7 linked regions of the Homo sapiens genome follow. The protein of the gene in region 4 purifies or fractionates together with the protein of the main gene of each other region. This does not show direct contact. Each region holds a gene or a part of one and is shown on either strand. Other genes may lie near its edges. The genes, in order: PROCR, RASGRP1, RAB11FIP5, ABCB8, BPNT2, ADPGK and CCDC51.

What was found.
Region 1: the proteins of ABCB8 (region 4) and PROCR fractionate together in Homo sapiens (co-fractionation; one large-scale study listed by BioGRID). This does not show direct contact.
Region 2: the proteins of ABCB8 (region 4) and RASGRP1 fractionate together in Homo sapiens (co-fractionation; one large-scale study listed by BioGRID). This does not show direct contact.
Region 3: the proteins of ABCB8 (region 4) and RAB11FIP5 fractionate together in Homo sapiens (co-fractionation; one large-scale study listed by BioGRID). This does not show direct contact.
Region 5: the proteins of ABCB8 (region 4) and BPNT2 fractionate together in Homo sapiens (co-fractionation; one large-scale study listed by BioGRID). This does not show direct contact.
Region 6: the proteins of ABCB8 (region 4) and ADPGK fractionate together in Homo sapiens (co-fractionation; one large-scale study listed by BioGRID). This does not show direct contact.
Region 7: the proteins of ABCB8 (region 4) and CCDC51 purify together in Homo sapiens (co-immunoprecipitation; one study listed by IntAct). This does not show direct contact.

Annotation. Positions count from the first base shown.
Region 1 is NC_000020.11:35,174,774-35,178,217, forward strand, and holds the end of PROCR (endothelial protein C receptor precursor), read left to right. Parts: coding exon 1-180; intron 181-1,394; coding exon 1,395-1,673; intron 1,674-1,924; coding exon 1,925-2,040; 3' UTR 2,041-2,589; downstream 2,590-3,444. UniProt on the Homo sapiens protein: Binds activated protein C. Enhances protein C activation by the thrombin-thrombomodulin complex; plays a role in the protein C pathway controlling blood coagulation.
Region 2 is NC_000015.10:38,557,932-38,562,084, reverse strand, and holds part of RASGRP1 (RAS guanyl-releasing protein 1), read left to right. Parts: intron 1-1,471; exon of another isoform or gene 1,472-1,957; coding exon of another isoform or gene 1,958-2,079; coding exon 2,080-2,264; intron 2,265-4,153. UniProt on the Homo sapiens protein: Functions as a calcium- and diacylglycerol (DAG)-regulated nucleotide exchange factor specifically activating Ras through the exchange of bound GDP for GTP. Activates the Erk/MAP kinase cascade.
Region 3 is NC_000002.12:73,085,278-73,089,430, forward strand, and holds part of RAB11FIP5 (rab11 family-interacting protein 5), read right to left. Parts: intron 4,039-4,153; coding exon 3,602-4,038; intron 3,473-3,601; coding exon 2,773-3,472; intron 1-2,772. UniProt on the Homo sapiens protein: Rab effector involved in protein trafficking from apical recycling endosomes to the apical plasma membrane. Involved in insulin granule exocytosis. May regulate V-ATPase intracellular transport in response to extracellular acidosis.
Region 4 is NC_000007.14:151,034,476-151,038,628, forward strand, and holds part of ABCB8 (mitochondrial potassium channel ATP-binding subunit), read left to right. Parts: intron 1-29; coding exon 30-124; intron 125-248; coding exon 249-354; intron 355-1,105; coding exon 1,106-1,267; intron 1,268-1,406; coding exon 1,407-1,492; intron 1,493-1,597; coding exon 1,598-1,695; intron 1,696-2,068; coding exon 2,069-2,174; intron 2,175-4,153. UniProt on the Homo sapiens protein: ATP-binding subunit of the mitochondrial ATP-gated potassium channel (mitoK(ATP)). Together with pore-forming subunit CCDC51/MITOK of the mitoK(ATP) channel, mediates ATP-dependent potassium currents across the mitochondrial inner membrane.
Region 5 is NC_000008.11:56,990,930-56,995,732, reverse strand, and holds the start of BPNT2 (Golgi-resident adenosine 3',5'-bisphosphate 3'-phosphatase), read left to right. Parts: upstream 1-1,865; 5' UTR 1,866-2,147; coding exon 2,148-2,534; intron 2,535-4,803. UniProt on the Homo sapiens protein: Exhibits 3'-nucleotidase activity toward adenosine 3',5'-bisphosphate (PAP), namely hydrolyzes adenosine 3',5'-bisphosphate into adenosine 5'-monophosphate (AMP) and a phosphate.
Region 6 is NC_000015.10:72,752,560-72,756,712, reverse strand, and holds part of ADPGK (ADP-dependent glucokinase isoform 4 precursor), read left to right. Parts: intron 1-265; coding exon 266-462; intron 463-1,058; coding exon 1,059-1,157; intron 1,158-3,571; coding exon of another isoform or gene 3,572-3,598; exon of another isoform or gene 3,599-3,644; intron 3,645-3,817; coding exon 3,818-4,153. UniProt on the Homo sapiens protein: Catalyzes the phosphorylation of D-glucose to D-glucose 6-phosphate using ADP as the phosphate donor. GDP and CDP can replace ADP, but with reduced efficiency.
Region 7 is NC_000003.12:48,436,855-48,441,513, forward strand, and holds the start of CCDC51 (mitochondrial potassium channel), read right to left. Parts: upstream 3,266-4,659; 5' UTR 3,134-3,265; intron 1-3,133. Other genes in the region: TMA7 (translation machinery-associated protein 7), read left to right, coding at 3,443-3,458, 3,549-3,604, 3,687-3,774.

The sequences.
Region 1 (3,444 bases), on a different chromosome or scaffold from region 4:
CGTCGCTGGGGGGACACCTAACGCACGTGCTGGAAGGCCCAGACACCAACACCACGATCATTCAGCTGCAGCCCTTGCAGGAGCCCGAGAGCTGGGCGCGCACGCAGAGTGGCCTGCAGTCCTACCTGCTCCAGTTCCACGGCCTCGTGCGCCTGGTGCACCAGGAGCGGACCTTGGCCTGTGAGTAGGCGCGCAGCGGGGGCGGGGTCTGGGCGGGGCTAGTGGGGGCGGGGCCTGGCGGGTGGGGGCGGGGCCTGGCGGATGGAGGCGGGCTGGGACTTGCAGGGACCCGGCAGCCACTGGAGCTCGGTGGCGCCTGGGCCTTTGAAGATTGCTGGGTGGGGGCTGGAGAGAGGCAGTTGTCCCCGCTAAGAAAGCCCCGACTCGGGCGGTCGTCCTGCTGGCATAACCTCTTGGGATAGACCCTGTTGGAAGGCCCTGACACCGTGACGTCGAAGGTCCCCAGAAAACTCCTCACCCCTCGCCTCACAGTCCTCCAACTCCTTTTCTTCATAGATCTCCGTCCTTCCCTTCCCACAGCCCCCAGCACTTCACCCCCCACCCTCCAGCCACTTCTCATACAAGCTGATGACTTCGCTCTTAGCTCCACTCATGACCCGAACTCTTCCCCCAAAGACCCCAAGTTCTTCTCTCAAAGCCCCACTCCTTCCCCGTCACAACCCTAACTCCTTCTTCTCAAAGACCCCAATTTCTTTTCTCAAAGCACCAAGCACCACTCCGTCCCCCTTCCCCCACCATCATGGCCTTTAACTCCTTTCTCTCCTAGTCCCCCACCCCACCCCCCTTTTTTTTTTTTTTTTTTTTTTTTGAGACGGAGTCTTGCTCTGTCGTCCAGGCTGGAGTGCAGTGGCGCGATCTCGGCTCACTGCAACTTCCGCCTCCCGGGTTCAAGCGATTCTCCTGCCTCAGCCTCCCAAGCAGCTGGGACTACAGGCACCCGCCACCACGCCCGGCTAATTTTTTGTATTTTTAGTAGAGACGGGGTTTCGCCATGTTGGCCAGGCTGGTCTCGAACTCCTGACCTCAGGCGATCCACAAGCCTGGCCTCCCAAAGTGCTGGGATTACAGGCGTGAGCTGCCGCCCCTGCCCCAGCCTCACCCCCTGTTTTTTTTTTCTATTACAGTTGAACAAGGCCTGACAATTCCCTTTTTTCATCACAGTCCCTGGCCCCTTCTTTCTTAGCCTCTAACAGGCTAACCCCAAACCCCTCCTCACAGCCCCAGGCCCTTCTCCCCATAGTTCCCTGACCTAGACTCCCCTCTCCTCACAGCACTGACTCTTGCCTTCTCATGTTCTTTTCCCCTTGGTGGGCCTCGCCCCACACCTGGCACCCTCTCTGCACAGTCCCCTGACCCTGACTGTCTATCCACAGTTCCTCTGACCATCCGCTGCTTCCTGGGCTGTGAGCTGCCTCCCGAGGGCTCTAGAGCCCATGTCTTCTTCGAAGTGGCTGTGAATGGGAGCTCCTTTGTGAGTTTCCGGCCGGAGAGAGCCTTGTGGCAGGCAGACACCCAGGTCACCTCCGGAGTGGTCACCTTCACCCTGCAGCAGCTCAATGCCTACAACCGCACTCGGTATGAACTGCGGGAATTCCTGGAGGACACCTGTGTGCAGTATGTGCAGAAACATATTTCCGCGGAAAACACGAAAGGTATGATGGGACGGGGCCCAGGCCTGCAAGCTGGGGAGAGGGCGGGTTCCAGACAAATGGATGGACCTGAAGGATGGATGCCTAGAGCAACAAGAGGCCCACAGCTGGGGGTTTGGGACAGAACACACGCAGCTTCAGTCAGTTGGTAAACGGGTCCCTTTCCTCTGGGGCAGAAACGCTTTGGGGTTTGACTCAAATCATGGACTCCTTGGGGGCCTATTCTTCGGGCTAACTCTTTGCATGTTCTGCAGGGAGCCAAACAAGCCGCTCCTACACTTCGCTGGTCCTGGGCGTCCTGGTGGGCAGTTTCATCATTGCTGGTGTGGCTGTAGGCATCTTCCTGTGCACAGGTGGACGGCGATGTTAATTACTCTCCAGCCCCCTCAGAAGGGGCTGGATTGATGGAGGCTGGCAAGGGAAAGTTTCAGCTCACTGTGAAGCCAGACTCCCCAACTGAAACACCAGAAGGTTTGGAGTGACAGCTCCTTTCTTCTCCCACATCTGCCCACTGAAGATTTGAGGGAGGGGAGATGGAGAGGAGAGGTGGACAAAGTACTTGGTTTGCTAAGAACCTAAGAACGTGTATGCTTTGCTGAATTAGTCTGATAAGTGAATGTTTATCTATCTTTGTGGAAAACAGATAATGGAGTTGGGGCAGGAAGCCTATGGCCCATCCTCCAAAGACAGACAGAATCACCTGAGGCGTTCAAAAGATATAACCAAATAAACAAGTCATCCACAATCAAAATACAACATTCAATACTTCCAGGTGTGTCAGACTTGGGATGGGACGCTGATATAATAGGGTAGAAAGAAGTAACACGAAGAAGTGGTGGAAATGTAAAATCCAAGTCATATGGCAGTGATCAATTATTAATCAATTAATAATATTAATAAATTTCTTATATTTAAGGCATTGTTATCTCCTCCACTTTGCAAAATTTCTGGAAAAGTAACCTATACCCATTTCTTCTGCTTCCTTATTTCTCACTCATTCTTTTTTTTTTTTTTTTTTTTTTTGAGACAGAGTCTTGCTCTGTTGCCTAGGCTGGAGTGCAATGGTGTGATCTCAGCTCACTGCAACCTCTGCCTCCCGGTTCAAGCAATTCTCCTGCCTCAGCCTCCCAAGCAGCTGGGATTACAGATGCATGCCACCACACCCAGCTAATTTTTGTATTTTTAGTAGAGATGGGGTTTCACCACGTTGGCCATCCTGACCTCGTGATCCGCCTACCTCGGCCTCCCCAAGTGCTGGGATTAGACGTGAGCCACTGCGCCTGGTCTTCTCACTCATTCTTAGACCCAGTGCAATCTGACTTCTCTATAAACTACTCTGAGATCACCAGTAACCTCTAATTGTCAAACCATCACCCTACATGGTATCTGCAAATTTGCGGACTAGAACTCTCTTTTTGCCTTAACTTCTGAGATACCATACTTCAATTTTTAAAACTGTTCTGTCTACTTTTTTTCAATCCCTTTGACTATGTCATCTTACACGATTCACCCTGGAAATGCTGGCTTCCTTAGAATTCCATTTTTTGGTTCCTTTTGTTCCTGTTTGAACTATACCCTTTCTAGGTGACCTACTGACCTTCATGGCTGCAAATACTATCTACCTGTGGTTTCCATGGAGAAGCAATATAATTTTATCTTTAAGAGCATGTGTTTTGTCGGCCAGGCGCGGTGGCTCACGCCTGTAATCCCAGCACTTTGGGAGGCCGAGGCGAGAGGATCACTTGAGGTCAGGAGTTCAAGACAAGCCTGGCCA
Region 2 (4,153 bases), on a different chromosome or scaffold from region 4:
GCTGGGTACAAATCTCAGGTTGATTATATATGAGTTTTATAACCTTGGCTATGTCATTTACCCTTTTTTAGATTCAGTTTCAGTGTCATGAGATGGGGATAACATCCTTCTGGGCTGTAAGCCTCAAGACAGGGTCAGTCCCCAGCACGGTACCTGCCATAGCATAGGTACTCAATTCATGTCACCATTATTATTTTGCTTTTAGAGACTGATCCAATTCTGGGGCTATCACAGGGCCTGTTTGAAAATCAATTATGGCCAGAAACTTGAGTCCTGTACCACCGACTTGATCTTTCAGGAATTACTGCCTAGGGTTAGCAGATGCCCAATAACCAATTGTTGATTCAGTTTCACTGGACCTGCATCAGGTCAGAATAGAGCCGAGCGGCCACTGCAGACCAGCGCCCTGGAGCTAGTTTGAAACAACCTGAAGGGCCAGGGTGCCCCTGCACAGGTCTAGCTGTGTACTGAGTGGCCCCATAGTTCAGTTATACACCATCTCTTAGCAGGCTGGTTTCCCAAAACCCACATGTGCCTAGCATTTTATTTTGATCTAAGCACTTCTTCAGCCCCTTTGGTTGAGATTATATCCTGTCAGAGCAGCTTTCCCAGACACTGTCCCACAAACTGCCTCTTTCTTCTCTGGGAACATCATGCTTATTACTCTTGACACTCATAGAACACTTATTTAACATTTATGTAGCTTTCTTTTCATTATCTCAGTCTGATTCCTCAGCTATATTTTTGTATTAAGGAACTTCTAGACTGCCATTATGTAACAACAGCAGCTAGTATGTAATGAGTATATAAAGTACCCTCACCTAGACTATCTCGCTGTGGTCTTCTCTGGCCAATCACAATGCCTTACTCATAGAATAAACACTTAGAGATTAATTGATGCCATTATGCATTTATCATATATAGTGAGTAAAGTTACACTTCAGAGGTACGTTTTTTTCCTTTTTCTCTTTGCTGCTTTGGTAGTAAACTACAAAATAACCAAAGCCACAGTAGAGAGAGGAGAATTAACTAAATGCTCAAGAGAGTTACCAGCAACACTCATCACTATTAAACCATAAAAGATTATAGATATGGATCTGTGTGTGTATGTGTATTTTTTAATGGAGAAGACAATCAACTTCCCAAATCATTTCGCAAAATGACTTGTACTGATGAGGTCATGACCAGAGATAGAGCTGCGTGTGAGTAGATGAAAGTCCATTGGACTCTTAAGCCATTTCTAGATCCAAACTTGCCCTTTTACACTGAGTGCTGGAACAACGCTCTCACAGCTCTGCTTTCTGTTTCAATCAGGACCCAAGTAAGGATTTGAAAAAACGATGTTTAGTAACAAAAATGACTCATAATGGTTACCTGTATTATCAACCATGAAAAACAATATCTTAAAACCAACCAAGATTTGTAAGAAAGGCAGGACTCGCTTAAAATCTAAACACCACCATCATCACCCCTCACTTCCTGCACTTGAGTCCTCAGTCTTTGACTTCTCCCCCAAGGTCCTTAACGATGATTCTGAGGCTGCCTGACCTTGTGTAGTATCTCAGGTATTGCTCAAGATTAATGAAGTTAGCCAAAGATGATCTCGAACTCCCGACCTCAGGTGATACACCCGCCTTGGCCTCCCAAGGTGCTGGGATTACAGACGTGAGCCACCATGCCCTGCCAAAGTTAGCCAAAGAAACCAATGTAAATAATTTTTAAGATTCAAGTCAGTGGCTTAGTAGCTGAAAAAATGTATACATTGCTGGGAGCTAAGGACTGCCAAGATAGTCTTGCCTCTGCCATTCCCCTTCAGGAAGTGGGAGACAGTAGGACAGAGCAATCCTAATGCCAGGATGAAGAGCACTAGTTGCAACCCTGAAATCTCACCTTTGCTGGGGAGATGTCTCTTTAACAGCCAACCAGTCATTTGGTGCATTTGCCAAGTGGGAGGGGTATGGCTTCTATCAGCCCAGCTCCTGAGATTAATTGTCTTATCTCCATTCCCTTCCTCTCCAATCTGCCTTCAGAGCGTGGAGCTGCCCGTTTGTCCCCTCACTGCCTTCTCTCTTTCCCCAGGAAACCTTCCCATGGCTGCAGAGCTGCCTCTAAAGCAAGACTAGAGGCAAAGCCAGCCAACAGCCCCTTCCCCTCCCATCCCAGCTTGGCCCACATCACCCAGTTCCGAATGATGGTGTCTCTGGGACATTTAGCCAAAGGAGCCAGCCTGGACGATCTCATTGACAGCTGCATTCAATCTTTTGGTAAGTTGGCTAACTGCCCACAGGCATAAAAATCACTCTATTACTTTGTTCGTCCTTTAAAAGTGCTTTACGGAACAGCAATCTAGATTGTATTTTGGCTTTAAAAATAGCTTTTGAGCCTTTGAAATGTTGGAGACAGTCTGCAGAGCCTATGGCACATGACTATGTGGGTGTAATAGGTCGTGATGAGAAGTGCAATTTTAAAGTGAGAAAAGTTAGGAGAGTTTGCATTTCCATTTTTCTTAGGATGGAGGTTTTTCTTGTGATGAAAAATATCATAAAATGATATTGTGCATCTGGTGCTTTGAGACTTTTCTGTCCTTGCCTTCTTGGGGCACATAAAGACTGTTACATGAGCAAACTTTGTTATCAAACAGAAATTGGAATCATTTGGAGGAATAAAGTCCCAATAATTCCCCTTGCAATCTGGAGGGCAGATGTGGTGGAATAGGAAAGGACTGGGTAAAGCCAGGAGGTTTGTGACGAGAAGACACTGGTTAATAAATGTTGCAATGCAGGGTCAAGGGGCTGGGAAATAAATGTGGACACGCACATTTCAGACGCTGCACTCTGTCAGCACCTTTGCCCACCATGAGGGAGGCACAGCTTAGTGCAGCCATCAAGCAATTATCTGAAAAGATTTTTTAAAATGTTATAAGCGTGGTGTATTTTTGGATTTTTATTTGTGAAATAGTGATTGAAAAGTACTAAATATTTCCTCCCAAAAAATGATTAAAATTGATGGATTTCAATGAAATCATTGAATTCAAAGATTTCCAGCTTCCTGTTCCTCCTGTGGACCCCTTTTTGTATCCCTCCATCTCCCACGGTGAAGCAGAGGAGCCTGTGTGGCACAGCTCAGACATACCAACCCCCCCAAGCCTACCCCAACCCTGGGAGCCTCCTGGGAACCTAAGGGAGGCTTAGTCAGATCCTAGGCAGCTCATGATCCATGAGATCTCAGAATGACGGACTAGTGGCTGTGTGTGTTAAGTGCTTGCTCAGACCTTATGTATAGAATTGGGAAATACTTGACATGTTAGGGATATTCATTTAGTACAATGTAGTACAGCATTGAACAGTTTCAACTATTTCAACGTTGGTTTAAAGTACTGGTTCTCAAACATTAGAGTGTCAGAATCACACATGGAGGCTGTTTTTTGTTTGTTTCTTTGTTTTGTTTTTTAGCACACATTGCTGGGCCCCAACCCCAGAGTTTCTACTCCAGTAGGTCTGGGGTGGGGCACAAGAATTTGCATTTCTAACAAGTTCCCAGGCCATGCTGTTGCATCTGACCCAAGAAGCGCACTTCGCGAATCATTGCTTTAAAGTGCTGTTTGTTGTAGACTTTTTAACTTGGAAAAGAGGAAGAATTTTTAGTATTACTAGTTTAGCATTAAATTTTCATTAGATTTCTCTTTATTTTATACTTCAATCTTATTTCACACTTTAATCATTCAGTTAAGATGAATCTGGGAGCAGAATGAATGGCTTTCTATTTCAAAATAATCTCCTTAGAAAATATACTGCGAGGAGATAAACTAGAGGATGGTGGAGACCGGGGAGGCGCGGCTGACGTGGGGCCATTGTTCATCATGTACTCCACTCTCACTTCCTTCCCAACCTGAATAAACTGCAAAGTTCCTTACACCATTTCAGCAGTCAGATTTACTCGGCTTTAGCAGGCCACCATGACTATTTCCTGAATAAGGATTTTTCTTCTTTCTGTTTCACTATTGAAAAAAGAGGGACGAGAAACATGTTTATCACACCACCTTCCTTCCTTCCATACCTGTTGTGCAACTGCCGGCCGAGTTCAAGACTGTTTTTCTAATCTTCAAAGAATCATGTTATCAACCTGAAAAATACATGACTGATTCTGAAGTCCT
Region 3 (4,153 bases), on a different chromosome or scaffold from region 4:
CATCATGATACACTCATCTCTATGTTGTACCACACTTATTCCCAACTTTAAAAGTTTTTGTAATCAACATTTGATCCCCTTCTGTGCATAGAGTCCTATGGTTAGTGTGGGGGGCGGGGAACAAGGGAACACAAGGATGACCCGGGATAGACACAAAGACAATCCACTTTGGCCCTGGCGGGTTTAAAATGCGTGGTCTTGCCTGTCCTCAAACACACGTGAAGTAGCCTGTGCTGCAGCTCAGTGTGAATGGCTCATAACAGGGCAGGGGAATGAGGCTAAGTCCTGTGGCCAAGACAAGCTTGGTCTCAACTACCTACTCCCTGCTCCAGCACACACTGGTAGGGGCCCAGTGTGACTGCCATGGCCCCCAGCAGACAAAGGCCACATCAGAGGAACAGCAGGACCCTCTTCTCAGCCCTGTATAGCCTCATTTGTTCCTTCCCCACGGCAGCAGCCTTTCTCTGGATACCATACTCAACACGTTCAGCCCCGGGCCTCTCTGTGGGGCATCAGTGCCACATGGGAGCACTAGAGGGCGCCGCTGTTCTTCCTAGTGAGGAACATCCCACAATCTGCAATGGTAGCCCCAAGGCAGAGGCCCCCATTCTCTGGACCTGGGGACAGGCTCCCCAGGCCCCAGCTGGAGATCCTGCAGCTACATTCAGTCACTCCAGTTCTGGGTCTAACCCACAGCTTCCTGCCATGAGGCAGCCCACCTCTCCTTCTCTCCTCAGAGGCCCTAAGCAAGCCCTCTGGGGAAGCGCCAACAGTCCTTTCTTCCAGGCCAGCCTTCCCCTCCCTGCAAGGCACACAAGGCCAGGATGCTGCTGATTGAGCTCAAAGGCCAGGTGTCACATCTGTCCAGGCCAGGCCATCTTACCCAAAGCACAGCCCCTCCCACCCCATCTGCATGCACGGCCACAGAGCCTGGCCCTGCAGCCGCCACCTGCAAATAGGCCCCATCTTGGGAGGGATGCTGAGTGCCCTCCATCCTGCTAAAGACAAGGCTCAGAATTCAAGTGACAGCAGGACAGAAACCTCAGCTTCCTTATGGCCATCAGTGACCCAAATCCTCCAGATTCCAAGAGGCCATTAGGAGATATGGGGAAGCAGGAGAAAGAGGATGGAGACTGTAAGTGCCCCAGGCCAGTGACAACCCCACAGACTCACAGCCTGTGGGAGTCCAAGCCCAAAGCCTGGGCAGGACTCACCTACAAATGGCCCCAGCATTCACCTTGCCCCAGAAAAGGCCCAGAGACACCGTACGCACAACCACACTGAGCCTGTGCTCTGTGCCCCTTTCAATCCAGGCCCTCAGCTCCTCCCAGCAAATGCCCTGTCCAGATCTCCTGCTACCTCCCTCTACCCTACCACCTCCAAATACCTCTGGCTGGCTGTCACAGGGACACCAGGCTCAGCCTGGCATCTGGGAAAGGCCTGTCCCCTTCTTCCCAATCTTCCCCTAGGCCGCAGATGGCCAGCAGCTCACCTGAGCTCTGGTGAGTAGGGGCGGGGCAGTAGGGACAGGAGCTGCCATACCAAGCAAGGGAGGCAAGGGGTGGCATGCCCCTGAAACTGATCCACCCCCCCATACCCCTATCTATGAGGGTCTAACAGGGATTGTCAGCTGACCATGGCCCAAACCTAGAAAGGCCTGCATGTCTCTCTCCACTCCTCTCAACAGACTCAGAGTGCCACAGGGAAACAAAAAGCCAGGACTACAAGATTCCTCTCCCCTCTGGGCAACAGGTTTAGGGTCCTTCCTCTGCCCTATCTTTTGCCCCCTTGTTACTGTGCTTGTCCTCTAAACCTGTCCAAGCAGCCATGGAGCGGGAAGGGCAGGCTTGTTGAGAGAAACAGTGCTCTCACCACACTGGCCAGGGCTGCCACAGATGCTGCCTATGAGGGCTGGCCCCAGGCCCTTGGGAAGGTGCGACACACACTTCTGTGACCTGTACCTGGAGCCCCTCTCTGGACCCTGCTATACAATTCTGCAGCCTCTCCTGGCTCAGAATTAGGAGGAAGCAAATGGTAGGCATCAGGGTCTCTGCCCAGGGCCTGAAATGGGGGACTCAGTATATTCAAAACAAAACAGCTGCCACCAGCACTTCCCACGGTGCCATACCTCAAGACCAAGAGACATCAGAGAGGGCCAGAGCTCCCAGGGTCTCCAAGGACAGAGATGGGTTACAGATTTCATGGGAGCTGCCCACAGCCTCTTGCCTGGGGAAGCAACTGGCAGGTGAATGGACGGGGGAAGGAGTGGTGGCTTCAGTTATTTGACTCCCGTCTCCCAGAGGGAAGTGATCACAGAGACAGCTGGGGAGAAGTCCTCTAGCTCCAGAGAGGGGAAGGGAAGTCTGAGAGTGCGGTCTCCAGTCCTCATCTCTCTACCAAGGCTTCCTTACCTTGAGGCCAGAGGGCAAGAGGTGGAGGTCAGGAAGCAAAGAATTCACACAAATGGACTTTCCTGCTTCCCTCCAGCTCAGGGGGTGGGCATGCCAACTCATGCAGCAAGGCCTAGGGCTGAGAAGTCGGACCCCTCAATCCATAGGACTCTCAGAGCACTATGCCCTCGTAACTCACCTGTGTCCGTGAGCACAGAACGAACCTTGGCTTAGGGAGACACCCCACTAAACCATGCAAAGCCAGAGCCCCAGCAGCCTGCCTGAGGTCCATATCTACTCCTTCCTCCCTGCCCCAGGGTCCAGGCAGCACACACCCCAGCATCCTCCCCAAGGAGCAAAGTTGGTCTTGCCAACGACTTACCTGGGTTTCTGAGTCGGGTCCTTGGCTTCTCTCAAGCCAAACCAGCTACTCTTGGCCTTTTCCTCCCCACTGGATGAGTGATGTGGGGAGGCCCCCAGGATGGGACCCCCCTTTTCCCCCAGAGAGCTTCGGCGACCCAACTCGCTCCGACTTAGGCCTTGGTGGTGGTGGTGGAAGAGACCCATCCGGGGCTTGCGTTCCTCCTTCCGGGCTCCCTCCTTCTCTGCCACAGCCTCAGAGGAGGCCACTATGGGTGTGGCAACCTGGACTGGCTTGCCCTCTGGTAGCCGGGCCCCCTCCTCCTCTCCAGGGTGGCTGGCCCCAGGGGCCAGGACTTTAGCCTGAGCACTCAGCTCCTCCTGTCCAAGCACTGCCTCTGAGCTGCTGTTGCTACGACTGCCTCTGGGCCAGGTGTCATCTGTGGAACGAGGCCCCTCCTCGGAGAACCGGGAAGAGACAGCTTGCAAGGAGCCAGAGGATGGAAGCGAGCCCGAGATGGAGCTGCGGTGCCGCACAGGGCCCTGGGGCTCCTCATTGTAAATGTGGCTCCCATTGACACAGAGCGAAGAGCGGGAGGCAGCATCCAGGTGGCCCTGAAGGTCCAGAAGGGCCCGAGGAGGAGCCACTCGCATCTGGTTGGCCTCATCGCTGTAGGTCCTCTTATGGGTGAACAGCTTGGGGGACTGTGCAGAGTCCCTGCCTGCAGGGGAAACACACAGAGTTAGCTCGCAGGAAGAGAGGCCCCATTTCCTGGCCCCAGGCCTTCATCACCACCCAAGGGGAGAGCCAGTGCCCCCCTCCCCAGGGCGGCGGCCCTGTGCTTGCTCACCCCCTTCAGTGGACAGCCAGCTGCTACGGCTTGGTGAGCGGGTGAGGAGTTCGGCGCCAGGTCCCTGGTAGGCCAAGCTCCCGCTGGCTGAGGACAGGGTGCTGTCCGAGCCCAGCGAGGTGTTGGACTGGGTCAGGGACGACTTGCGCAGCTTGTTGCGGAGGAAGAAGCCTTTGGCTTTGCCCATCTTGCCCAGGCTGCCCAGGTCAGGATCCTCTATGGCGCTGCTTGGGAGGATGGCAGAGGCAGATTCCAGATCATACTTCTTCTTGCCCTTCATCTTGTCCCTGATCTTGCTGAAGGGAGACCTTGGCTTGTCCTTCATGGACAGGTCAAACATACTGGCGCTCAGGTTGTTGCGCGTGAACTGGATGGTGACTTCAATCTCGCCGCGTTCCTTCTCCTTCTTGCCTGGCTTGGAGTGCAGCTTGTACCACCTGTGAGAAGAGGGGAGCAGGCAGAACTCAGTCACGGGCCCAGGGAGCCTGGCTCCCGCCCGGTACCAGGCACTGCCCAGACCCCTCCTTGCTCTGAGAGCCACTGATAGCCTCT
Region 4 (4,153 bases):
ATCCCTGAGTGCACTGGGCTCTTTCGCAGGGACTGCTGACCTTCGGGTACCTGGTGCTGCTGTCCCACGTTGGCGAGCGCATGGCTGTGGACATGCGGAGGGCCCTCTTCAGCTCCCTGCTCCGGTACTGCCAGCCGCAGGGTGCAGAGTTGGGGTGACTGATGGCCTGAGGGGTCTGGGGGTAGGACCTTATCCTGAAGTAATGTCTCCCTCTTCTGCCCTCCTTATTGGTTCTTGTCCCATGCCAGACAAGACATCACCTTCTTTGACGCCAATAAGACAGGGCAGCTGGTGAGCCGCTTGACAACTGACGTGCAGGAGTTTAAGTCATCCTTCAAGCTTGTCATCTCCCAGGTCAGTGGCCCAGTGGCCCCCACCACGTCCACACACACACTTTCCCATGTGGATTCACCAGGCCAGCCCTGCCCGCCCCAGCCCTGATGTTGGGCTGACAGGCGCATGCTGACTCGAGAAACCCACTGCCTGTGAGGGCATGGGTGAGGGACCATGGAAGTTCATGGAAGGAAAGTGTAGAGGCAGTGTCCAAGGTCAGGACAGGCTGCTTCTCCACTGCTCTGAAACCGAATCTTCCCTGGAAAGCCTTCCCAAGCACTCAGACAAGAGCCTTTCCTGGCAAGAGCAAAATCACTTCGCCTGCCTTGTCCCCAGAGTGCCTGGATTGCTGACAAGCATTGAGCATGTGCAGTGGCCTACCGAACACAGATGCCCTCCCCTTATCCGCCCACACCGACTCTGACTGCTGGATCATGCCACACACTGGCCTAGGCAGTCACTGGTGTACCCCCATGCAGTTCTCTTTGTTCAGTTCCTAGAACAGAAAGAGAAGCAAGCTGGGATTTGTCTAGGGGAAGGATGCCACAGTTCATAGCATTCTCGCTCGGCCCCCTCAGGCCTGCTGCTCGCACCCCAACTGGCCGAGTTAGGGTTACGTACTGTGACCGGTGGACTGCCACTGGGCCTCCCAGGGGCCAAGACCTGGGCCTTGGCCGTGGGAGTGCAGAGCTACAGTCAGCTGACCCTTGGAAAAGTCCTTCCTGTCATGGTGCGGACGCCGTAGCCTCCCGCCTTCCCTCCCACTCCCTAGGGGCTGCGAAGCTGCACCCAGGTGGCAGGCTGCCTGGTGTCCCTGTCCATGCTGTCGACACGCCTCACGCTGCTGCTGATGGTGGCCACACCAGCCCTGATGGGAGTGGGCACCCTGATGGGCTCAGGCCTCCGAAAATTGTCTCGCCAGTGTCAGGAGCAGGTACCGGCATTCCTGGCCATCCTCTTCACCCTCCCCACACCGTTTCTCTTTCCACTCCCCGGAACTCCTCCCTGTCCCCATCCTGGACTCCTTGTCCTGTTTTCTGGACTCCTTGTCCTGTTTCCTGGACTCCTTGCAGATCGCCAGGGCAATGGGCGTAGCAGACGAGGCCCTGGGCAATGTGCGGACTGTGCGTGCCTTCGCCATGGAGCAACGGGAAGAGGAGTGAGTCCTGGGAGGGCGGAGCACAAAGCAGAGATGCCCCCCACACCCTGCCAACCCTTCGTGCCAGCCCAGCTGCCTCCTGAATGCACTGGTCTCTCTCACCAGGCGCTATGGGGCAGAGCTGGAAGCCTGCCGCTGCCGGGCAGAGGAGCTGGGCCGCGGCATCGCCTTGTTCCAAGGGCTTTCCAACATCGCCTTCAACTGTGAGTGAGCCATTTGGGGGCTGGAGGGGCGCTTGTGGGCTGGGGAGGAGCTGGGAGCAGCCAAGGCAGGCAAAGGCCCTCCCTTCATCTGCTGGCTGCCTGCATTCGCCTCGGGCCAGCTGCTAACTCTTGCAGGTAAAGGGAGGGTGCCGATGTCCCAACCCAGCTATGGGACTCCATGTGGAACGCTACAGGGCCACCCTCAAGGAGGCCATGGAGGCGTGCCCACCCCAACTTGCTCTTCCGAGGAGGAAGCCAACGCTGGGACCAGTCATGCGCCTCACCTGACTCTCCCAGTCAGCAGTGGCAGAGCAGGCCCAGGGCTGTTTCCTCTGCCCTGGCTTCGTCCTCCCTCACTTCCCCTCTCCTGCAGGCATGGTCTTGGGTACCCTATTTATTGGGGGCTCCCTTGTGGCCGGACAGCAGCTGACAGGGGGAGACCTCATGTCCTTCCTGGTGGCCTCCCAGACAGTGCAAAGGTAAGTGGGGGCCGTTCCCATTGCTACAGAGCCCCCTGCCGCCCTCCAGAGCCCTGCTGGGTTAGGGGACACGGGTGCCAGCCTTCTCTGGGGGCCGACTGCTGTGCAGCTCCAGGCCTGCCCAGCTTCCCCAGGGATGCATAGGGTGGGGAGAGAGAGCCCCTCAGGGCCCATAACAACCCTCCTGGCTGGGGCAGTGGCGCTGCAGCAGGCAGGTGCTTGTCATCTTCAGCCTTCCAAAGGACCCAGAAGTTTCCTTGACAGGCTTTTTAAAAATTTGTTTCAACTGTGGTAAAGTACACAAAACATAAAATACAGCATTTTAACCATTTTGAAGTGTGCAGCTCATGGGCAGTGGGTGCACTCACATTGCTGTGCGGCTGTTGTCACCGTCCGCCTCCAGAACTCTTACCTGGCAGAGCGGAAACTATCCCCATGACATGGGAATCCCCATTTGCCCTCCCCCAGCCCCTGGCACCCACCATTCCACTTTCTGTCCTTATGATTTGACAACTCTAGGGACGTCCTCTAAGTGGAGTCAGACTATGTCCTTTTGTGACTGCGTTTTGTCACTCCACATTGTGTCCTCAGCTTCCTCCGTGTTGCACCCTGTCCGAATTCCCTTCCGCTGCAGGCTGTGACATTCCATGCATGGAAGGACCATCCTTGACAGGCTGTGTGAGCTGCCCTTCCCCATGCCTGCCACTTCCAGGGATGACAAGCTGACCCCTGTCCCCACACACCCCACCCTTATAGCTTATTGCTTTGCGTTGGTCCAAAACCACCCGCTCAGCTGAGCCTCTGGGATGACCAGAGCTGATCACCAGACAGCTCAAGGCGGGCCTCCCCCCTCCTATCTCTTTCCAAGCTAAACACAAGCAGTTCTACATAAATATGTTATGGTAAATAATGAGATAGTAAATATGCTGTAACAGATCATCAAAGGGTGAAGACCCGTCTCCACGAACCGTGCATCACCTCTGCCACCCCATCCCTCCCCCCACGACCCCCCTGCTCTTCCACCGGGGCCCCCACCCCATTCTACTGAGGCATGTGTCCTCGCCCTGCTGCATGGTGCACCCCTGCGTGTGTGTCCGCCGGATCAGAACCCCTCACTGCAGGGTGTACTGTCCCAGGAAGCGGGAGGCGGACGGAGACAGGCTCCCATTTTCAGCCCCAAACCTGACATTCCACAGAGACGTTCCTCCCATTTCCGCAGCTGCATGGACACCCTCGCGTGCCCCGTTTCTGCTCGTGCTCCCTAATCTGAGCACCTTCAGACCCTTTCTGGTCCCGGGCTCAGGCCTCCTTGGCAGCCTCGCCCTCCTCCAGCCCAAGGAGCTGTTCTGTCGTGGCTTTGGAATTCAGATGCTCTCACTGTGATAGAGATGGGGTCTTGGGGGGCTGGGAGCTGTTCTGTCGTGGCTTTGGAGTTCAGATGCTCTCACTGTGATAGAGATGGGGTCTTGGGGGGCTGCCTCCACCACTGCCTGCCCTGCTCAGCGCTGACCCACTTCCCTTGACCAGAGTTTTGGCCTCTCTGAATGGGACGGTCGTTTTAGTCCTGAGGGCCCATAAGAAGCCCAGTGGCGGCTGGGTGCGGTGGCGCACACCTGTAATCCCAGCACTTTGGGAGGCCGAGGTGGGTGGATCGTGAAGTTAAGAGATCGAGACCATCCTGGCCAACATGGTGAAACCCCGTCTCTACTAAAAATACAAAAATTAGCTGGGCATGGTGGTAGTCCCAGCTACTCGGGAGGCTGAGGCAAGAGAATCGCTTGAACCTGGTAGGCAGAGGTTGCAGTGACCTGAGATTGCGCCACTGCACCCCAGCCTGGCAACAGCAAGACTCCGTCTCAAAAAAAAAAAAAGAAGCCCAGTGGCTCCCTTAATAAAATCACCCCTTAGCCCTCTGTGGTGGGCAGTGGTGGGACAGTCTCCCTGTGGGGAGGGTGGCTGCACTGTCCAGCCCCAACCCT
Region 5 (4,803 bases), on a different chromosome or scaffold from region 4:
AATTCCTATAAAGGTTTTCTGACATCACTGTACCACATGTAATTAATCAAATGTTTTCTTATTGTCATAACTTCTTTTGTCGATTAAATGTTATCTGTTAATACCCATTCTCTATGATCAATTATCACTTGAGTGCTAGAACGCCTCTTGGAGCTACAATCTTTCAAGTGACTCCTTCTTTCCACATACCTTGGCATTTTCTCCCTCAAGTCTTAAATCCCTTTTTTGCAGTAGAAATGCTCCAGAGCTTTTAGTATTTCCCTCAGTGGTATACTGTGTATACTGCCACACTGAATGTGACCCTATATTATTCTCCAATATCCTTGGAAAATATTATTCCGTTTATTTTGAGAAATCTCAGACTTCCCAATGATGCTTTTAATATTGACATGATTACTATCCAACTCATCTTTTTGCTGCTGTCATAGTGTAGGTTGGGGTGGTTCTGTTTAACTTAAACCTTTATATTTCAACCCTGATGTTTATCTTTATCCCTGGGATGGGTTTTGAGAATTACTCTGTGACATTCACTTTTAGATATTTGAAAGCAGCTTTGCTTCATTGCAAAGTTACTCTCAAAAGCTGACAAGAAAGGCAATGCTAGTTCTTTAAGTTCTGGTGCTGTCAATACTCTAGGGATTGTTCTTTCACTGATTTGTATTTGTACTTGATTTTGTGCTGTGATTCTGGCAGGGAAATCACAGTGCTTTTGTTGTATGTGTATAATCTGGCAGTGCTTTTGTTGTATGTGTATAATCACATGCAAATTCTAGGGATGCCCTGAACTCTAAGTAAGCGGTAAAGGTCAGGCTCTACATGACTTGCTTAGCAATGGATGTTTAGAAGTTTGGTATACTTGCAGTTTTTCAGGTGGTTAATTCTAAAGTCCACTTAAAACCAATGCTGTTTTGCTATGAACAGTAAAACAGGCTACATTTTAAGTTGATTTATATAGATATTTTAACATTTAAGAACAATACTATACATCTTAATATTCACTTTTAAGATTAAAGATAAACTCATGAATACTTATAAAGTATTCACTATCATTCTAGCTAAGATCGGTGTTATAGTAGAAGGTAGTTATTTCTGTCAAAATACTTCGAGAGCCTACGCTGACTCAAAGATTACATGTTCTAGACTGACCATCTCCGGATAACCTCTATTTTAAGTGGACTCTGTCAAGCAATTCCTCTTCTTAAGCTCTGGTAGGAGAGCCAGGCTCGAGTACCCTTGGAAATGAGAGAAGCCTGGTTTGCTTTCTTTCATTATGAAAAACCCGGATCAAGGCATGTTTTTCAGCTGCTTCGAGGATGGTTTATTCTGGCAGGTGGAGGAGAGAAACTCTATACACACATAAGCATTTAGGGCACGACAAAGATGTCAACAGAATGAAGAGCCAAGTACAATTCTTCCCCTCACCGCCCAGTTCCCCGTCCTGCCGGGAAGAGCGCGGAGAAGCGACTTAAAGGTACAGGCTGTCTACACCCCCGCTGGCTAAAAAAGCTTGCAAATCAATCTTTTAAAATGGTTTATTGTGTTTTCCTCCATTCCTCAATAATCTGAGAGTGATGAGAAGACTAGACTGTTACTGTGGGTTTATTACAGCCAGCCATAGTCGTACAATGGGATATTTAATTTAAACACCCACAAGGCACTCAGCACAGCACACTGTCCTGTGCGGATTGCTGCTCGCCACTTCCAGGAATACCTTCCCACCCAGACCAAGGAAGGCAGCTCAGTCCAGCGCCTCCTGTCCCGCCCCGCCCCGCCCCAAGGGGAGGTGCCCAGCTCTCCCCGCCCCTCGCCCTCGCCCTCGCCCCGCCCCGTCGCGTAACCCGGATACACACCCACGCTCCCCTTTCACCTCGCGGCCGTAGGCTAACGTGGAAGTCGGACCAGCCGGCCGGCGGAAGAACCTAGAGCGCGCTGCCTGGCGAGTCAGGCGCGCGGGGCGGCGTTGGTGGTCTTCGCGGCGCAACTCGGCCTTTCCTGGGAGGGAGTGATGGGGCGCACCGGGGCCGGGGAGCGGGCGCCAGTGTAGCCCGCGCGGCGCCTGGCCCGGAGCGCGGCGGCTGCGGCGGCGGCGGCGGCGGGCGCTGGAGGCCTGTGAGAGCCGCAGCCCGGAGCGCCCGGCTTCCCACGCCATGGCCCCCATGGGCATCCGCCTTTCCCCACTGGGGGTGGCAGTGTTTTGCCTGCTGGGGCTCGGCGTGCTCTACCACCTCTACTCGGGCTTCTTGGCCGGCCGCTTCAGCCTCTTCGGCCTGGGCGGCGAGCCTGGCGGCGGCGCGGCGGGGCCCGCGGCCGCGGCCGATGGGGGCACCGTGGACTTGCGCGAGATGCTGGCTGTGTCAGTGCTGGCCGCAGTCCGCGGCGGCGACGAGGTGAGGCGCGTCCGCGAGAGCAACGTCCTCCACGAGAAGTCCAAGGGGAAGACGCGCGAGGGAGCCGAGGACAAGATGACCAGCGGCGACGTGCTGTCCAACCGCAAGATGTTCTACCTGCTCAAGACCGCCTTCCCCAGCGTCCAGGTGGGAGCCCACGGGCGGAGCGCCCACTCGAGCCGGGTAGCGCGTCTCGGCCCGTCGACTCTTAACAGTATGGGATGTGGAGCTTCTGGTTCCATTTTGTAGATGTGGAAATTGAGACGCAGAAGTTAACGTGCACAAGGTCAGACAGACAGCAGAGGAGCTGGGTGAGGTTGCACGTAGTCTGACTCAGGGCCCGTGCCCTTTTGGCTCGTCCTGGGTCGGGTGTGCGCCGTGTGTACCTGGGATCAGAAGGCCTTGAAACGAAAAGGCTGACAAAGTTAATTGCACCCGCAGCTTCAGGCTCCTCTGTAGAATTAAGGGGTTGGCTAAAATCCACCAAGACTCTCTATCCTTCCTTGATTTCATCCCTAGAAGGGTCGAAACTGGAGTACACATTTTCTGGGTGGCCTGCCAGTAGCCAGCTGAAAGACCGAGTCTTGTTGCAGAGCTGTTAGTGTGCGGGGCATTTGTGTGTGCGTGTGTGCGCTCGCGGGAGTCGGGGTGGGGGGGTGGGGGATGAGTATGCTCATTTCGCTGTCTTTTTGTCAGGACGCTCTAAAGTTTATAGTTTGCGGGCCCTTTAAGGAGGTACTTAGAAATATACCAGCTGTTGGTCCTACCTGGCCCTTGATTAAAGATCCATATTTACTCCAGAGAATAAGAATTAAATAACATTTGGCTTTTCTTTGGGTAGGTTTCTGGGAAGGGAGTTGACATTTTCTTAAGGAAATCCAGACATTTTGGATTTGTTATTAATACTTTTTGAATTCATCATTTCACTGGAGCTGCTATTGAGTTGAATAAAGCATATTTAAAATTTGCAGTTCCAGAAACTGCAAATTTTGTTGAGGAAGAGCTCAGCATAGCGTAGCAGCACCTTATTAACGTATATCTTAACTCACCTAACTGTAGTTTTGGCTACTGGGAAGAAAAATTGTCTTCACTGGAATTTTATTAGATAAACAGTGATGTGCAAACCCAGGCTTCTTTGGAAGGTGACTGACCTTTTACTGCTGATCTTGAAAGAGTTAGGAGAATATTGTCATTGTTTAGTTATGTATTTTGCATAAGGCTTCTTCCAGTCTATCATAATATTGCTTTGGTTTTGTTTTTTATTCTCCTCTCTTCCTCCCTTTTCTTTCGTCTTTTTCTTTTTCCAGTGGAAAGGAACATTGTATTTCCTAACATGAGCTACTGGATACCAGATGTAATTAACGTTAGAATTTTTTTTTTCAAATTTCTACTTAAAACACAGAATATTTCCACTTTTTCTTCTTCCCTACTCTGTTTTTATCATCACAAATAATACTTAAATTTTTTTGCATCTAGATGTAAGGTGTGTTTATGAAATATTTTACCCCCTTTCCAAAACATACGTGTTTCCTTCCCCAAGAATTTATAGAGGAAACAGGAGATTCAGAGAAGTTGCTATTTAATGGTTATAACAGTACTAATAATAACCATTTATTGAATATATTTTACATGCCCAAATACTGGCTACACAGGACTTCATTTGATCCTTAACAGCAACTTTAAGAAGTAAATTTTATTTCTGCCTACTATACAAACGGGAAATCTGAGGCTCGTGACACTCCAGCTTATATGAACTATCCCACATTTTAGCTAGATTTTTAGAAGGCTATTTAAAACTTATAATTGTAGAAGCTTAAAAGCAGTAATAGTGAAATACAGCAAGCAGAGTTGATTTTTCTTTTTTTAAGTAAAAACAAAAGTATCTTAAATGTTGAAAACACATCTGTATGTGTGTGCATTCTCATTTATTAGCAAACAATAAGGGAATGGCTGCCAAGGGCAGTGAGCTGCATTTTATTAACATAAAAGCTAAGCTTTTGGAATTGCAGATGTTGAAGTCTCTGGCTTAATATAAAACAACTTCTTGTTTTCTTGTGACTATTTGAATGTTTGCATGTGCTTCTGTAGTATTCATGTTGGGTCATGACTGAAGGAATAGAAGAGGTTTGTGATCATTTATACAGTGTCAAAGTAGGGATGGTGTCATGTTGAGCGATCTCCTTATACCCCTGTGTTATAGGCTAGAGGCCAAATATTGTAGCCAACTAAGTGGAGAATCAACCTAAAAGGAGTCTTTCTCCTTTTTTGCCTTCCCCTCTCCTAATGCCCAGAAGTACAGTCTTAAATCCCTGGTTAATTTTGAAGCCTCACCCCAAATTTCTTGGTAAGAAACTTAAATTATATCCCACTTAGTTTACTTCCTAGTGGAAAAAGACCATTGAGAAGCAACAGATAC
Region 6 (4,153 bases), on a different chromosome or scaffold from region 4:
GGGACTCAGGGGGAGCTAATTACCTTGAAAAAGGCATATAGCACCCATACTATGTTTCTGTTTCTTGGCTGGGTTTGGGTTTAGGTTTTTGGTTTGTTTCTTGCAGTGCCATGCTGACCTTAGGCCATTGTTGCTGGGGTCTCCTCAGCCAGAAACCAGCCTGCTTGGAGCCAAGGCTCCTGTGAGGTGCCTGAAAGTGCCCCCACAGCTAGGAGACCTAAAGCCTCTTCCTTTTCTTCCCATTGTGTTGACTGGGTTTTTCCAGGGGAGGAGTGGGGCCAGTTAAAAGCTCCCCATGCCAACCGATTCATCTTCTCTCACGACCTCTCCAACGGGGCCATGAATATGCTGGAGGTGTTTGTGTCTAGCCTGGAGGAGTTTCAGCCAGACCTGGTGGTCCTCTCTGGATTGCACATGATGGAGGGACAAAGCAAGGAGCTCCAGAGGAAGAGACTCTTGGAGGTAATGGCACTGTTACAGAATTTCACAGATCTCAGCTGGTGGTTTTCTTCAGGTTCCAGCCTCTCTTGGCATCTGCTGCCTTGTCTTAGGTCCTGGCCTCCCAGGGACATATCTTGGCAGCTGGCTGTGGAGCTTGCCTCCTGCTGCAGTGAGGCACCTCACTGTATCCCTTCAGATGTGGGCAGCAGCTTGAGTAGGACAGGGCAGAACATCTTCTTGCCTGAGCCTCTGCATCCTGTGCTAAACCGACCATGGCTGCAAGCTGCAGGGTTTGTAGTTTGTGTCCTTTGTGTTATTTGTATCATCTCACTTCACATCAGCTATGCTGCAACTCCTACAGATTCGTACAGCAGTCGAAGTGAACTGCCATCTCTGATTCTGTATCCCTGATGGCTCTGCACAGCCTAGTCTTCCCTGGTGGGAAGAGTGTCCCTTGTCCACAGAGGTGGTGGGGACCCACATTGCTTGTAGCTCCCGTGAGCATGCAAAGAAGGCCATTACCAGGAGGAACCGCCTCTCAGGATCTGATCTTTTCTTCCCTCTTTCTTGACTTCCTTCTATTTCTAATGGCAGTGCTTATCTTCTTCTCTTTGCAGGTTGTAACCTCCATTTCTGACATCCCCACTGGTATTCCAGTTCACCTAGAGCTGGCCAGTATGACTAACAGGGAGCTCATGAGCAGCATTGTCCATCAGGTAACCTCATGGGACCATCGTTTGGCCCTGATCCTCATAGAGCCTTGCAGAGAAGCTTTTTTGTGCAGTGGGACCATCTGTTTGGGCTCAGGGACTGGCTCACTGACATGTAGGTTTGTGTCACTCAGACCCAAGTCCATGGAGATCCAAATAAGGATCCAGGACTGTTCTGAAACAGCAGTATCTCCTACTAGGTTAAAGTTATGGCAGTGTAACTGACAGATTGTTGATCATATTTCTCCTCTGGAATGGAAAAGTTGAAAGTGAATGGAAAAAACTGAAAGCCCAGCTCAGCTGCTTTCAGTTGAACTTCAAGAAGCTCAAAGCAAAGAAACTTTGAGGGAACCTCCCTCCTTCCTCAGGCATCTGGGTGTTCAGTGCCTGCCTCTGGGCAGCAGCATTGACTAGTATAAATCTGAGCAGGTGAAGCTTCAGAACACAAGCTCTGGAGACCTGGGTTCGCATGCCAGCCTTGCACTCACGGGCTTCATGAACTCAGGCAAGTTACCTCACCTGGCAATCTAGTGTTACCTAATTTTAATTGGTAATATATTCATTTGGTTAAAAAATACCCAAAAACTATGAAAAGATATACAATGAAGTCTCCCTTCTACTTCCTCCCCTTCCCTACTTGCACCCTTCATCAGTTTATTTCCAGAGTTCTTTTGTACAAGTATAAGAAAATACAGAAATATATCCTGATTTTGTTTTCCATCCCTTTTTACCCAAAAAGATAGCATAGCCTACTGAATACTCTGTTCTTCACTTTGCTCTTTTTTTCACTAAATATATCTTGGAGATCTTCCTGCATCACTAACATGGAGAGTATCCTCTGTCTTTTCATAGCCATATGGTTAAAATGAATGTGTAGATGTACCTCCGTTTACTTAACCTGAACCTTCTGGATGGACATATTGGTTATTTACTGCCCTTTGCTGTTACACACAGTGCTGCAGTGAACAACTTGATACATGATTTTGTTTTGCCTGTGAACAAGTCCATATTTAGGAGAAAGTCTCAGAAGTAGAACAGCTGGACTGGAGCATAAAAAAGCACTTGTAATTTTGAGATTGCCAGATTGCCCTCCATAAGAATTATACCAGTTTACTTCCCACTGGCAATAATTACAAATACTTGTTCCCTCATATCCTTGCTACCAGAATGTTAAAATTTGCATTTATATCAGTCTGACAGATGAAAAAATGGTATTTCAGTATACAGTCATCCCTCGTCATCAGCGGTGTGTGGGGCGGCGGGGGCGGTTCCAGAACCCTTCCCAGATACTAGAATCTGCAGATGGTTAAGTCCTGCAGTTGGCCCTGTGGAATCTGTGGATTAGACAAGTTGGCCCTCCCTATCTGCAGGTTCCACATCCTTGAATACTCTGTTTTCCATCTGAAGTTGGTTGAAGCCATGGATATGGAGGGCTGACTGTCGTTGGTTTTGTTTTTTTTTTTTTTGATAGACTTCATTTTTTTTTTATGGTAATATTAGGTGCATAGCAAAATAGAGCAGAATCCAAGAGAGTTCCCATATACTTCCAGTCCCCTCACACACAAGCCTCCCCAACTACCAGCAGCCTGCACCAGAGTGGTACATTTGTTAAGCTAGTGAGCCTACACAGGCACGTCATCAGCACCCAAAGTCCATAGTTTACACTTGGGTTCACTCTTGGTGTTTTTCAGTATAGCTTTTGTTTGGGTTTTTCTTCTCACCTTTAAAAAAATGAGCCATTTCTATTTCATTTTCTCTGTAACTGTCTACTTAACCCTTCTGAGGCTTAGTCTGTACAATGGAGGCAGTCCCTCCTTCCCTCAGAAGATTACAGTAAGAATTGGATGAAATAAAGCCTTTAGCTCAGTGCCTGACACAGAAGAACATGCAGTGAAGGAAAGCTGCTATTGCTCCAACAAAGATGTAGGCCATTAAATTTTTAAAACCATTTTATACATGCACACATACATACAAGGACTCCTCTCTCCTGCAAAAATTGTTACCTTAAGTGTGGTTCTCTGGTTCTAAGGAGGGAAGTGCTAAGTAAGAAAGACAGGGAGGTGGATATTGTGGTTCCCCATCAGACAGAAAACACGGGCACCTGTTTGGTAATCTTTTTCTTACAGTGTTATTGCTAAATTCAGACAGTCTTCCTAACCCACACCTGCTTTTAAAAAGCTTAGCTCTAACATGAAACTGTATGCTTTTTGCTTCTTGGTGTTTTGTATAAAAAAAATCATTATAACCCTGACAGTATGTTGCTTGAGGTCTCCATTTTACTGGTCTAATACTGCTGACATTCAGGAACTGAGAGCCATGCCCCATCAGTGGTAAGAGTATCTCCTATGTGTGCAGTGGCAAAAGCTAGGGACCATGGAAAGAAACACAAAATATAGACACCTCTGCCTTTTGTCTTACAGTGGCATATCACAAAAGACTGCATCTGAAACAATGTTACTGCAGCTTTCCAGTTTCTCCCAAATGATGATGAAGGTGAAGATAGGGGTGTGATAGCTAAAACAGTGACTTCAGGGCCAGGGAGTCCTGTATCAAGGAAGAAAGCTGCCTGCCTGTGTTCCCTGTCATTTAGTCACTGGCTGTGTCATAAGACATCTTAGGAGCCAGGTTATCTCCATCAGAAAGATACCTGTTGTTGTTTTTGTTAGCAGGTCTTTCCCGCGGTGACTTCCCTTGGGCTGAATGAACAGGAGCTGTTATTTCTCACCCAGTCAGCCTCTGGACCTCACTCTTCTCTCTCTTCCTGGAACGGTGTTCCTGATGTGGGCATGGTCAGTGACATCCTCTTCTGGATCTTGAAAGAACATGGGAGGAGTAAAAGCAGAGCCTCGGATCTCACCAGGATCCATTTCCACACGCTGGTCTACCACATCCTGGCAACTGTGGATGGACACTGGGCCAACCAGCTGGCAGCCGTGGCTGCAGGAGCTCGTGTGGCTGGGACACAGGCCTGCGCCACAGAAACCATAGACACCAGCCGAGTG
Region 7 (4,659 bases), on a different chromosome or scaffold from region 4:
TCGGCTTTCTCCCCTGCCGTCCCCCACCCCCATGTTCTGCACATGGCAGCCCAAGGCCCTGTAACACAAAAATCAGATTACATCCCTCTGATCAAAATCCCCCAACAGCTCCCATTTCACCTGGCGGTGGCCAAGAAATCCTGAGACCTCTCAGCCCTCATCCTCTTCCTTCTACTGCCATACTCTGCTCCAGCCACCGTGCTGGTCTGTGCCCTGCCACCTTGTCCAGCTGGATGACTCTTCCTCCACGAGTCTACTCGGCTCACCCCGACATCTTCATCTTTGCCCAAATATCACCTCTCAGTAAGGCTTCCTTGACCACTCCCTCCCCAGCTACCTTCTCTGCTTTATTTTTCTCCTGATGGATATATTTCCTTATGTGTTGCCTATTCTCTCACTAGAACATAAGCTGGGTGACAACAGACTTCATAAGGGAATGTGGCAATAATTCCCATGTGGCAACTGGAGTTGTTTCTCCACTCCAGTCCCTCCCCTCAGCCTCTCCACCATCCCACCAGCCCCCAACCCTGGGCCCTGTTTCTCAGCCCCCAGGATGTCACCACTTAGATGTTTCACAGGCCCCCCAACCAGCAAGGAGAAGAATGTTCCTGGCAAAGAGAAAAGGTGGAAAGTGCTTGAGGTCGCCCAAAACCTGAAAGGCAGTCAGTGCAACTGGAAAGCAAAAGCAGAGAAGAGTGGATGGAGAGGCTGGATAGGTGAAGCAGGGCCCTGAGGGTCAAGTTCGGAATCCTGCCCCTTCAGATCCATTCTCCCGCTCTATGTAGATGGCTGTCTCCTACCAACTGCCCCTTCCTCAAGCCTCTATCATCTGTTCCTCATCTTCACTTCCAGCTGATGGTCTGCTTGCTTCATTTTCCATCAAGAAAATAATAAAAAGTTGGAAGAGAACTTCCACAAACTCCCACCATACCTTCCCAACCATCAGTAACTGCCCCATTTCCACCTCCTCTCTTGATCCTCAGGATAAAAAACCCATGCTTCTAGGGAAAACCAACCTGTGCCCCAGGTCCCAAATCCTCTCTCCTCCTGAGACATTACTCAGTAATTGATCTGACACCCCCCCACCAGCAACTGCCCCATTTCTTTGGTTTCCTTTATAACCAAACTCCTTGACAGACTGCCTGAATTCACTGTTTCTGTTCCTCTTCTCTGATTCCGTCCAGCTCCCTCTGATCTGGCCTTCACCTGCTCCTCCTTCACATGCCATTTTTCACTCGGTTTCCAGTCCCCACTCATCTGCCTAACCTCTGGAAACTGTAGCACCCCGGCACTCGGCACTCAGACTCCTCTCTTATCCAGTCCTGTGGTTTTAAAAATCATCTATGAAAATGGTCAAAAAAATTTATTTTGGTGATGGCCATACAACTTTGTGAATATAATAAAACCACTGAATTGTACACATTGCATGAATTACATGGTATGCAAGTTATATATCAATAAAGTTGTTTTTTTAAAAAAAAAACAGAACTATACTCTTGACTCCTCCAGCGCAGACCTCTCTCCCCAGGGTTCTAGGCTCATTTATCAAACTTCCCAACCTATATCTCTGCCTGAAAATCTAATGGGGATCTCATCTTCCCCTCCCAAACCTTTTTTTCCCATAGCCTTCTCCATCATGGATGACAGCAATACCAAGTTCAAATATTCAGATCAACAACCTCGCATCACCCCTGATTCCTCATTTCTCTCCCACCTCACATCCATCTATCAGCAAATGCCCCTGGCTTTCCAAATCCAGGATCCCTCCTCCTCTCACCTCTGCCACTGCTACCAAATGGTCCCAGTGACCCACATCACATCTCTAGCCTGGATTATCCCAAGAGCCTCCTGACAGATGTCACCCTGCTTCTATTCCAGCCCCTACAATTTATTGTCAGTCGAGCAGTCAGTGTTCCTTTCCAAACACAGGTGGAACCATTGTCTCTCTGCTCAACCTCTACAATGGTTCCCCACTTCTCTCAAGGTAAAAGCCTGTCTTTTCCATGGCCTACAGGGAACCTACCCACTGGCTCTCATTCCTCTCTGACCTCATCTCCCACTAGTCTCCCTTTCCTCACTCCACTCCAAGCACATGGACCTTCTTGAAGTTGCTGGAACGCACCAAGTTGTCCCCAGCTCAGGGCCTTCACGACAGCTGCTATCTGTGCTGCTCGCTCCCTCACCTTCTTCAAGTCCTGCTCAAATAGTAGCCCCTTGGGAGGTCTTCCCCATGCACCCTATCAGATATGGCCATCCCACTCCCACCCTAGCACTCCTGACCCACTTTCTCTGCTTTATTTTTTCCATGCATATATCACATGACCTGCAACATGTATCCCATTTATTTGCTTTGGTTATAGTCTGTCTCACTCACTAGAATTTCAGCTTGGTACCTACATATAGTACGTACCCAGCAAAAAATGTACTCATCTGCCTAATCTCTGGACACTGTAGCATCCCAGCGCTCAGCACTGTTATTTAAAAAAATAACAACTTTGGCTGGGTGCGGTGGCTCACGCCTGTAATCCCAACACTTTGGGAGGCTGAGGCGGGGGGATCACGAGGTCAGGAGTTCGAGACCAGCCTGGCCAACATGGCGAAACCCCGTCTCTACTAAAAATACAAAAATTTTCCGGACATGGTGGCGGGCACTTGTAATCCCAGCTACTGGGGAGGCTGAGGCATGAGAATCGCTTGAACCCAGGAAGCAGAGGTTGCAGTGAGCCAAGATCGTGCCATTGCACTCCAGCCTGAGAGACAAGAGCAAGACTCCATCTCGGGGGGAAAAGAAAAAAAAGCTTTATTGATATATAACTTGCATACCATATAATTCACCCAATGTGTACAATTCAGTAGTTTTACTATATTAACAGAGTTGTATGGCCATCACCAAAATAAATTTTTTTGACCATTTTCATAGATGAACAAACAGAATTCGCAAACTGCTGCACCCCTGACTATATTATAAAACTCCTTACAGGGTTTTCCAAAGCTATAGGACCACGTGATATAACTCCCGTCCACTTCTGCCATCTCCCCGCCTAATCTCCCTCCACCCAAGCTGTGCTTTCCTTGGTTCCAGGAAAGCGACGAGCTTGAAGCTCTTTGCACATGCACATGCCCTGCTGTCTACCTGCAGTGCTCTTCCCGCGCACGGCCACAGGCCTGGTAGGCCGTCCGGTTAAGTACCCCTCCTACGGTTCCGATTCTACCCTGGCAGGACAACCCTAGCTCCTCGTACCTGGCGTGGCCCGACCAATCGTCTGCCACTCAGTTGACCTCTGACCTGTTAGTACCCGCCCCTGGAGCGCCGCATCCGGTAGCGAGAGTTCAACTTCCTGACTAGGAGCCAATCAGCGGGGCCGCCTCGCTGTCTACGACAAAGGGTGGGGCAGACGCTCCGTTTCCGGTGGCAGGGTCTGGGGAAGCGGCGGCAGGCGCCATGTCCGGCCGCGAAGGTAAGTGTTCCGGAACCGTGAGGACTGCGGGGACGGCGGGGTGGGGACCGGGCGGCAGGGGCAGGCCGAACGTGCTCGTGTCGCCCACAGGTGGCAAGAAGAAGCCACTGAAACAGCCCAAGAAGCAGGCCAAGGAGATGGACGAGGTGAGGGCGGGCGCGGAGGCACTGGCGGGTGCGGGGGCGCTGGGAGACAGGCCTGAGTTGAACACGCTCTGCCTCTCCCCAGGAAGATAAGGCTTTCAAGCAGAAACAAAAAGAGGAGCAGAAGAAACTCGAGGAGCTAAAAGCGAAGGCCGCGGGGAAGGGGCCCTTGGGTAAGTGGGGGCCGAATGGAGCTCAAGCTGGCCAAACGCTATGAGCACCTATTGGGATGAGGGCGCGGGCATGTCTTTTTCCTGCCTCCTGAACTGCGAGGTCTCGTTTTCCGACGTCCGCTGCAGCGAATGGTCTCTAGCCAGTCTAGGATTTGCAGCGGCAGTAAGGGCCGGGAGCTGGAAACGAGGTCTCCTGCCTCCCAGGCAGTCTGGGCTTCCATTCCTTAGGAAGAGCTGCAGAAACGGAAACAGTGAAATGTATTTACCTCAGACGCAGATTCACAGTTAAGTTTCTCAAAGTCTGACGTCGTCCGCAATCTTTTGCCCCAAATTCGTATTTCACTGCCTTCTAGTGTTTGAACCTTACTTGACTTAGAAGTTTTTTTGTTTTGTTTTGTTTTGTTTGAGACAGAGTCTCACTCTGTCTCCCAGGCTGGAGTGCAGTGGCGTGATCCCGGCTCACTGCAACCTCCACCTTCCGGGTTCAAGCAATTCTCCTGCCTCAGCCTCCCAAGTAGCTGGGATTACAGGCGCCTGGCACCACGCCTGGCTAATTTTTTTTTTTTGAGACGGAGTGCGGCTAATTTTTGTATTTTTAGTAGAGATGGGGTTTCACCATCTTAGCCAGGCTGGTCTTGAACTCCTGACCTCGTGATCCACCCGCCTCAGCCTCCCAAAGTGCTGGGATTGCAGGCGTGAGCCACCGCACCTGGCCAGTTTTTTTTTGTATTTATAGTAGAGACGGAGTTTCACCATGTTGGCCAAGCTGGTCTCGAACTCCTGACTTCAAGTGATTCACCCGCCTCTGCCTCCCAGAGTGCTCGGATTACAAGCGTGAGCCACAGCACCTGGCCAACTTTTTTTTTTTTTTCGTACTGCTTATAT